Linked DNA regions of Homo sapiens: region 1 is linked to region 2. Evidence: fine-mapped expression QTL. A gene starts in region 2. The other region holds a variant in brackets. All regions are shown on one strand. Distances are between the middles of the regions.

Region 1 (5,523 bases), 220 kb after region 2:
TCCCTCTTATTCATGGGAAGGTCAGTCTTTTTGTTCTATTCAGGCCTTCAACTGATTGGATGATACCCATACACACTGGGGAGGGCCATCTGCTTACTCAGTCTGTCAATCTAAATATTAATCTCATTCACAAAAAACCTTGTAGACACACCCAAAATAATGTTTGATCAAATGTTTGGGTACCCCAATGCCCAGTCAAGTTGATACATAAAATCAACCATCACTAGGGGGTTAAGTGTCCTGAGGTTTTCTCCCCCTGCTATATCTCCTAGCTGAAACCCTAGGGCAGCCTGGATCTCTGAAGTGTGCAGTAAACATGGACAGAAAAACATCAAGATGAACTCTCTCTTTCTGGCTGGAAGACTGGGAGGGCGGGCCCTTCAGGACAAAGACTGTAGGGGTACTCTCATTTCATTTTACTTTTTTTATTCTCCTAGCTTGGTGCCAAAGCCAGACTTAGTCATGAACTATACTCCTGCAGCAGTGGTGGCAACAGTGGTTCTTAGGCAATAAAAAGTGTAAGAGAAAATTCTTCCCTCTGACCAAAGGAACTGGGAAAATAGACCCCTGCAGTCTAAAGACTGTGAAGCAGTCTCCATTATTTTGTTCCTCCTTTTTCTAACTGCTTCATTCTCAAAGTGGACACAGTTGTGAAAAATGTCTGACAGCACAGGAGGCTAAAACCCTGGCTTTCTCTCCAGCACAACAGGAAAATGTGACCCTGCATATGGAAGAGTGGGGAAATCATAGAGAAGAGGGAGATGGAAAAAGAGATCTCTTAAATCTGGGTATGAAATCCTGGGCTCACTCGCAGGATTCACGTACAAGGAACTGACCCAAAACAGTATAATGAAGGCTTTGAGTCTGAACTACAATGTGGGCCGTTTCCTAGGCCCCAGACCAGCCCCTGGATAGTGTCCACATGGGGCAGACCCTAATAGCACTGCAAAGGCTTTGAAAATGAAGCTAGCATTAGAACCTCATCCCACAAAAAGTAAGTTGGGAGTTGGGGTATGAGCCTAACTCTTTTAATTGCTTTAGAAAAAAATCAACATTCTTCAGAGAATTTTTTTTTTTTTTGAGACAGAGTCTCAGTGCAACACCCACACTGGAGTGCAATGGAATGATCACAGCTCACTCCAGCCTCAACTTTCCTAGGCTCAGGTACTTCTCTCATCTCAGCCTCCCAAGTAGCTGGGACAGCAGGTGCACACCACCATGCTTGATTAATTTTTTGTATTTTTTGTAAAGACAGGGTTTTGCCATGTTTCCCAGGCTAGACTCAAACTCCTGGGCTCAAGTGACCTACCCATCTTGGCCTCCCAAAGTGCTGAGATTACAGGCAAACCACCACACCCAGCCTCTTCAAAGAATCTTAACAGGACCTAGAGAATTATACATAATTCAAATGTCTAAGATACAATTCAAAATTAATCAATACACAAATAACAAAAAAAAAAAAACAAGAAAATCTCACCAACTCTCAAAGAAAAAAGACAATCAACCAATCAACACACACCAACACCAAATTGACCAAGGTACCGATGGTGGAATAAACAAAGACTCTAAGAAACTGTTATACACACACACATACACACCTCCTCCACACACACACAAATATAATTAAGCTCCATGAAGTGGGAGAGAGCATTAGTGAATAGTGAAACAAATGAAAAGATGGACACTTTCAGCAAAGAGAAGCTATTGAAAAAAAATGAAAATTTTATAATGAAAAATACAATGATAGAAATAAAATAATTCGCTGAAGGAGATCAGTAACATAATGGAGATAGAGTCAGTGAACTTGAAGATGAGGAATTAGGCTGGCCATCTTTTCCTGTAAAGGAACAGATAGTAAATATTTTAGAATTGAATGACCATAAACTATGTCATAACTCCTCAGCTCTACAATTATAGCATGAAAACAGCCATAGATCATATGTAAATTAATGGAAATAGCTGTTTCAATAAATCTTTATTTAATGAACAGGCAAGCTAGATTTGTCCTGTGAACCATGGTTTTCTGACCACTGAGATAGATCAATAGAAGCTATCTAATCTGAAAAATACAGAAAAGTAACTGAAAAACAATAAGCAGTCTCAGGGACAAGTGGCCTGATATCACAAGATGTAACATTCATGTCATCAGAGTGAAATGACAGAATGATAGAAAAGAGAAGAAAGAGATTAGTATTAGAAAAATATTTGAAGAAATCACGGCTAAAACTTCTCAGATTCGGGGGAATTCATGTGGAGGTCAAAGTGGAAACAGGTGTGAGAGGTCCAGCAGAAGAAAACATGGCTGCCAAAGTGTTTGAGTCCATAGGCAAGTTTGGCCTGGTCTAAGCTGTTGCAGGAGGCGTGGTGAACTCTGCCTTATATAATGTGGATGCTGGGCACAGAGCTGTCATCCTTGACCGATTCCGTGGAGTACAGGAAATTGTGGTAGGGGAAGGGACTCACTTTCTCATCCTCTGGGTACAGAAACCAGTTATCTTTGACTGCCATTCTTGACCACGTAATGTGTCAGTCATCACTGGTAGCAAAGATTTACAGAATGTCAACATCACACTGCACATCCCCTTCCAGCCCGTCGCTAGCCAGCTTCCTCGCATCTTCACCAGCATCGGAGAGGACTATGATGAGCCTGTGCTGCCATCCATCACAACTGAGAT[G/A]CTCAAGTCAGTGGTGGTTTGCTTTGATGCTGGAGAACTAATCACCCAGAGAGAGCTGGTCTCCAGGCAGGTGAGCGACAACCTTACGGAGTGAGCAGCCACCTTTAGGCTCATCCTGGACGACGTGTCCTTGACATATCTGACCTTCAGGAAGGACTTCACAGAAGCAGTGGGAGCCAAACAGGTGGCTCAGCAGGAAGCAGAAAGGGCCAGATTTGTGATGGAAAAGGCTAAGCAGCAGAAAAAGGCAGCTATCATCTCTGCTGAGGGTGACTCCAAGGCAGCTGAGCTGATTGCCAACTCACTGGCCACTGCAGGGGACGGCCTGATCGAGCTGCGCAAGCTGTAAGCTGCGGAGGACATCGCCTACCAGCTCTCACGCTCTCAGAACATCACCTACCTGCCAGCGGGGCAGTCCGTGCTCCTCCAGCTGCCCCAGTGAGGGCCCACCTTGCCTGCACCTCCACAGGCTGACTGGACCACAGCCCTGATGATATTTAACATCGACTTCCTTCTGCCCCCACCCCAGAAATCACTGTGAAATTTCATGATTGGCTTAAAGTGACGGAATTAAAGGTAAAATCACTTCAGATCTCAAAAAAAAGAAAAATTCTCAGATTTGATGAAAGTCATAGATTTACAGCTTTAAAAAGCTCAAGAAACCCCAAACAAGATAAATTCAAAGTAAAATACACCAAGACACATGATGAAACTGAATACAATGAAAAACATCTTGAAAGAAACCAGAAAACATTGGGGAACAATGATCGCATATTTCTCATCAGAAACCGTGGAGACCAGAAAACAGTGAAACAACATTTTTAAAGGCCTATGAGAAAAGAGCTGCAAACCCAGAATTCTATATCTAGTGAAAATATCCTTCAGGAGCGAAGACAAAATTAAGATATTCTCAGATAAAGGAAAATCAGCAAAATGTGTTACTAGTAGACCTGCTCTAAAATAAATGCTAAAGGAAGTTCTTCAGGTGGAGAGGGAATGATAAAACAACAAAAATACTTGGACTTTAGGAATGAAGAAAGCATAAGATAAAAAGAGAAAAGATATAATTTACCAATATCTGGAACAAAAAAGAGGCTATCACCGCAGAACTCACAGATTTTAAAGGATAATTGATATACTATAAATAACTCATAAATTTGACAGCTTAGATAAAATGGTCCATTTTCGTAAAATACACAAACTACCAAAACTCACTAGTGAAGAAATATATGACCTACGTAGTCCTATATTTACTAAAGAAATTGAGATTATAGTTAAAGACCTTCCAATGAAGGAAAGTTTGGGTCCAAGTGGTTTTACTGGTGAATTGCACCAAACATTAAAAAAAAGTTAATTGTATATAAGCTTTCAAAAAATAGGGAAAAGGAACATTCTCAACTCCTTTTAAGTGGCCAGCATTATCCTGATATCCAAACCAGACACAGCACAATAATATAAAATAAAATTAAACAAAATATTAGCAAATCAAATCCAGTAGCATATGAAAAGGATAATAGCTCACAACCAAGTGGGATTAATATGAAGAATGCAAGGTGATTCATCATCGAAAAAAATCAAAGACTGTAATCCACCCTATTAACAGACTAAAGAAAAACTACATGATAATAGATGCAGAAAAAGCAATATCTATCTATGGCAGACTCAGCAAACTAGGAATAGTAGGGATCTTCCTTAACATGGTAAATGGCAACTACAAAAATAGAGTACATAATTCTACATGAATAAATCCCAAAGATAAAATGTTGACCAAGAAAGAAAATTGCTGGATATTTATAGTATGATATCATTTATATAAAGTTTTGCTATATGCAAAATTATTACAATTGCTTATGGATAAAGTATAAATGTTTGCAAGGGAATAGCAAATATTAAAATCAGATAGTGGCCACATCTGGGGAGTGACAGAAGGGAATAGGATTGGAGATTGACACACAAGGAGCCGCAGCTTTACTGTAATGTTCGAACTCTTCTTAAAAAATCTGAATCAAATATGACAAAATGATAAGATTTGAAGAGCAAAATGAAAGAGACATGACCATTCATTACATTGTCTGTATTTTCCTGTATAGTGAATATTTTATAGTTTTTTATTTTATTTTATTTATTTATTTTTGAGAAGGAGTCTGGCTCTGTCACCCAGGCTGGAGTGCAGTGGTGCAATCTCGGCTCATTGCAACCCTCTGCCTCCTGGGTTCAATGATTCTCCTGCCTCAGACTCCACAGTAGCTGGGATTACAGGCATGCACCACCACGCCCGGCTAATTTTTGTATTTTTAGTAGAGACAAGGTTTCGCCATGTTGGCCAGGCTGGTCTCGAACTCCTGACCTCAGGTGATCTGCCCGCCTCAGCCCCCCAAAATGCTAGGATTGCAGGCATGAGCCACTGTGCCCAGCAAGTTTTTTAACTATGTAAGCACTATATATTTAAAATATATAAACACTGATAAAAGCGTCCTCAGGATCTTACGGAAGCACAAAGCGTAGGGGAGGAGGAAAGAATAGGTCTTCGAGGGCTTCCCGCAGGTGATGCTAGTAATTCTTAAACAGTTACCACATGCCAGGTAATGCTCTAACTTCTAGAAGTAGTAGCTTACTTATTTTACACAACAACCCTATGAAGCTTGCACACCTATCCTCAGTTAGAGATAAATTGAAACCCAGAGAGGTTAAATAACTTGCTCCAAGTCAGAAAGCTAGAAAATAAGAGTTGGGATGAAAACCAGGCAGCCTAGACCCAAATCCTGAACTGGTCAACCACACGAACAATCCACTGCAATGCTTTACTTTAGAGCAATTACTCTGCTTGCTGTGTGGACAACAGTGTAGA
Region 2 (5,000 bases):
CCCACTGTTAACGTGGTTCATGACTTTCTGTTTAAGCTGTGCCACCTGTTCCCTGAGCATGTTGGCCGTGGACGCCAGCTCCGAGTTCTGAGCTTTCAAGGTTTTCACTTTTTCCTCCAGCCGGGCGATTCTCTCCAGCTTCCTTTTTCGGCACTTGGAGGCAGCGATGCGGTTCCTCATGCGCTTCCTCTCCGCCTTGATCCGCTCCTGGGACTCCATGTCGATGGGGGACAGGGGCGGTGTCTCGCCGGGCATCTCGGGCACTGTCTGAGGCTCCTCCTTCAGGGCCTGCAGCCGCGGGTGCTGCACGGGCATCTGCTGGGGCAGGTGGTGCGGCGGCTGCTGCTGCTGCTGGGGTTGCGCGGGAAAGGCCAGGCCGGCCGCGCCGTAGGAGGGCGCCCCGCCGCCGCTGCTCAGCGCGCCTGGGTTGAAGTTGCTGAGGTTTGCGTAGACCGGCGGCTCGCTGTGCAGGCTGGCGCTGAAGCCGCCGCTGCCGCTGCCCCCTGCCACCGAGGCTACCGCGGGAGCCACCATGCCTGCCCCGTTGACCGGCTGCGCCGCCGACGTGACGCTGGGCAGCGTGTTCTGGCTGTGCAGTTCGGCCAGGGCGCGCACGAAGCCCTCGGCGAAGCCCTCCTGCTCATCTGTCACGTTCTTGGGGCACAGGAACTGGGTGGGGGTCGGCGTGGTGGTGATGTGCCCGTTGCTGGACTGGATTATCAGGCGCTCCAGCTCGGGCGACGCCAGCTTGAGCAGCCCCACGTCGGGCGAGGTGAGGAGGTCCGAGTTCTTGGCGCGGAGGTGCGGCTTCAGGCTCCCCACTGGGTCGGCCAGGTTCAGGGTCATGCTCTGTTTCAGGATCTTGGGGTTACTGTAGCCATAAGGTCCGCTCTCGGACGGGAGGAACGAGGCGTTGAGGGCATCGTCATAGAAGGTCGTTTCCATCTTTGCAGTCATAGAACAGTCCGTCACTTCACGTGAGGTTAGTTTGGGCTGCGCGCACAAGTTTCGGGGCCGCAACAGGGCTGTGGCAAGCGGGGGACACCCGCGCCCCCCGGAGCCTTTGACAGGGAAAGTTTCTCTAAGAGCGCACGCACCCGCTGGCTGTCGTCCCCGCTGCGCCCTCCTCACCAGCTCGCTCCAGGGAGCGCAGGGTTAATTAAGATGCCTCCCGCACTCTTACTTGTCGACTCGCGCGCGCTACCCGGCTTTGAAAAGTCGCGGTCACTCACTGAGCGCTCTTCGTGCGCAGCGGTTCCTCGGAGTCCGCAGGCGAACTCACTTCCCAGAGCAGCGGCTCTCCCCGCGGAGCGGATCAGTGCGGACCCTGCAGTGGCCGGCCGGCGGCGGGTCTTGGCCGCCCGGACTCCGACGACTTGTCCCCTCCTCCGCTGCTAGGGGGAGGGGGCGCCCGGCAGCCGCGGCTCGCGCTCGCCCAAGTTCAACAACCGGTGCGAGCGAAGCTGAGCGCACGTCCTTCTTCTCTTGCGTGGCTCTCCGCCGCCTTCTGGTCTTTACCGCCGTGGAGAAGCCTAAGACGCAGGAAAGGCTTGCAAAAGTTGGCTCCGGGACTCTGCCACTTGTCTCCGGTCCTCCCAGCCGGGAAAGTTCTTTGCTGCTGCAGCCGCTCGCCGACTTCCCCCGGCGGGCGCGTGGGTACCGCTGCTTTCCGCCGCTGTCAACAGCGCCTGGGCAGCAGGGCTCTCCTCCCGGGGGCGGCTGGAGACCAGGCTCTCTGGACACTCCCGAAACACCAGCCCGGGAGCCACAGGCGCTAGCTCTGGGCAGTTAGAGAGAAGGTGAAAAGAAAATAAGATTTGCAGTTCGGACTATACTGCCGACCTGGCTGGCTGGCTGTGTCTGTCTGTCTGCCTGACTCCGCGCACCTCCACTCCCGCCTCGCTGCTTCAGCCACACTCAGTGCAACTCTGAGCCCTTATCCAGCCCGAGCTCAACACTTATCTGCTACCAGTCAACCCCTAAAAATAGCCCATGATGTCACCCCAAGGCCTTCCCATTGGCTCGCGTCGCTCTCAGGGGGGCGGGCCCGCCCGTCACCATGGAGACTCCACCCTAGAAGATTCTTCTCTGGGCCCGCGGAGGCTCACGGGATGAGGTAATGCTCCGCTGCCCTCCTACAGTCGGGCCCTTCTTTCTCCTACCCTCCCCCCTGCCGCACGCCTCTCGGCCCTCTCTTCCCCGGTCCCCTCCCCGGGCCGTTTTTCCCGGCCCGCCCGGTGCATTGTGGGCTGACGTCTTGGGGTTTGACTGTCTAGTGACGGTGGCTGCCGCGAGCGGGCGGACGCTCGCAACCTCTGATGGAGGGGGGCTCAAGTTCACGGCTGCGGACGGGGATGCGGGGGATGCAGGGACCCGGGAGGCCAGGGAACCTGGCCAGTTGTTTTGGGCCAGGGGTGCGGGCGAGGGGTGGTTGTTGTTTCCCCACTTGTGGGGCCCGAAGTCATCCACCGGCGGCCGCCACCGCGCGGGGCTGGAGGCTGAGAATCCAAGTACGCTGCCACCCCCCCGCACTTCCGGGGGGGCGGGAATACCGCCCTTAAGGTGGCTCTGTGAAGTCCCAGGTGGGGGCGAGCCTAAGGGGACTTAAGTTTAGGGGCGGTCTCCCGAGAGTCGGCCCCCCACGTTGAGAACACTCCGAAGTTTGCATCTCGGTCAAGTTCAGGAGCGACGGTCCGCGGGGTCGTCTGGCTGCTCGTAGAAGCCGAGAGATTTGTATTGCCCGAAACTGGACGCTCAGCTGAGTCTCCGTTGCACCCCACTTCATCCTCCGGGACCGTGGGGGAAAGGGCGCGGGGGTTCACAGCTTTGCCTCGGAGGGGCAGTTTTTATAGTGGGCGCAATTGGTGGGTAACAGGGTCCAGATGGGAACAAGCGTGTAGGCGATCCGAAACTCGGGGAACCCCGGTGTTAGTCTACTCCCCCTCCCGCCCCCGGACAACACGCACACGCTTAACACAACACGCACAACATAACGCGCGCGCGCGCGCACACACACACTCCATCCGCGCCGAGTTGCTTCCGGGAAAACAAGCCCAGAAGGCGGCGGACACTCGCATAAAGTCACGCAGTAGTACTCGGAGCCCGGGGTAGAACCTGGACTTCAAATCTCTGCACTCCCGGCCGGGTGGTGGGCGCATATCCTGGGTAGCCTCTAGGAAGCGCTAGACACATGTAAGTGGTTCCTTTTCCGCGGTTATTTTATTCTCCCCCCGCCCCCCACCCCTTAGGGACGAAAGTGTGTGGTGGAAAGAATCCCGAAGTCGGGAATCCTGGTTCTTTCGTGGCCAGGCTACCACAGTGTGAAGCAAGCAAATCACGGAACTCCTCCGAGCTTCATTTCCCTCATCTGCAGGTGGGGCCGGTGCCGTCCACCTCACTGGGCTGCCAGGAGTTAGTGTGACAGGGTCGCCTGCAGCACTAGGGAGGTGGTGGCCAAACAGCCCGCTTCCCTCCCCTGCCTCGCAGTTTCCATCCTCGCAGAGCCTGGATAGGATGCCAGGATATAAGAGTGCGATTTGGCAGGACCAGGTGTACTTTCCTGTGAGAAGCATCGAGGGGAGGAGGGGAGGGGGAACCGGGTTAGAAGTCAGATCTTTCCCAAGCCTCTGTCTAAAACTGGGGCTTGAAGTTGGACCTGCAGCAGTTTAAGTTCCTAGGTTCTAAATTCAGACTTCGCTGCTTCTGAACTTGGAATTCAGCCTTGGGTTCATTGCCCCCAGCCCTAAGGTATTTGCGGCTTTGAGTGTTCAGAAACCAACAGCAGCTGGTATCAGTGGGAAACCTGCCAACTTTTCTTCACTCCGGGCACTCACCTAGCTTTCACTGATCTGCAGAGGGTAACTGAAAGCCTACTGTGAGCCAGGCACTGAGCTGGGGAGGGGGTGGGGTAGGTAGGTATACAGTGATGACAAGATCCAGTTGCTTCCTCAAGGAGAGAACATTCTCCTCTGTCTGTTGCCCTGAATCATTTTCTGTTGTATTCAGGGAGTTGGTGTTCTAAATATTTTTTAATAACAGTAATAAAAATCAGTTTCATGTATTAAACACTTATTATCTGCCAGGCATTCTCCTAAGCAATTTAAATACGCTGTTTTCTCCCCACAACTGTCTTGAGAGACATATATTATTATCCAGATTTAACATGTGAGGAAATAGGCCCAGAGAGGTTAAGTATCTTTGTTGAGGTCACACAGGCAGCTGGAAATTGACCTCAGGTCTGTGTTACATTCCTTTGTATTTTCTCTACTCTGGCAAACTTTCTTGTGGAGTATTAGTTATCTGCAGAGGAAATAGCGCTTGTGGCATAGAAGAAATTTTCTTGCCTGATCCTCTGACTGTAACTCCGTTCAGAGCTCTTGTATTTAGAAATTTCAAGACTTAGGACTTTGCATAAATATATATCTTTTGCCTAAGGTTCTGTGTGTTCCTCTCTGCCTCATGTGGTTTAGTAGGCTGATCTTCTCCTTATGTTGAGAAATAGCATATTTCATCCAAAAAAATAACAAATCTGTTCATGTTAACGCCCCTGCTTGGAAGCCTTCATTGGCTTTTCCTTACAATCAGGAGAGTTCCGATTCCTATGCCTTGGAGAAGGGGCTTTTCACAATCCAACTCCTTCTCTCTCCAGCCTTATCTCTCACTCCCAGTTCTGTCAGGAAAGGCAGTGTTATGCTGCCCTAACAAACAACCCTAACATATCAGTGGCTTATTCCAGTGAAAGTTGGTCATTTCTGCTACATGACCGTTGTAGGTTGGCAGGGTAGCTCTGCTCATTGTAGTCACTAAAGGGCTCAGGCTGAAGGAGGCCTCGTGTTGATACCCCTTTTCACAGCTATCCTGACTGTGGGGAAGGAACTCGGAACATCATGGCTGTCAGAGCATCCACTTATGGCACACATCACTTCTGCCCATACATCATTGGCCAAAGCAGTCACATGGCCATGCCTCTTTAGATCACTATAATCCTACCAGGTGTCTCA

Evidence for each region. PIP is the estimated chance that this variant, and not a neighbour inherited with it, causes the effect. A credible set is the group of variants that fine-mapping cannot tell apart.
Region 1: its variant is the best candidate, but not a certain one, in a credible set for the expression of JUN in whole blood (INTERVAL, PIP 0.87).

The regions. Positions count from the first base shown.
Region 1 is chr1:58,997,378-59,002,900 of GRCh38, forward strand. It overlaps the pseudogene PHB1P3. Among named protein-coding and RNA genes, the nearest start is that of LINC01358, 20 kb to the right of the region's middle. The variant G/A (reference allele first, on the strand shown) is at 2,676.
Region 2 is chr1:58,782,114-58,787,113 of GRCh38, forward strand. JUN (Jun proto-oncogene, AP-1 transcription factor subunit) reads right to left here and starts at 1,934. Exons shown (of 1, transcript NM_002228.4): 1 at 1-1,934. The coding sequence starts at 957. JUN-DT (JUN divergent transcript) reads left to right here and starts at 3,038. Exons shown (of 2, transcript NR_108106.1): 1 at 3,038-3,192. RefSeq lists enhancers at 44-223, 1,632-2,379, 1,894-2,153, 2,380-3,125 and a silencer at 294-373.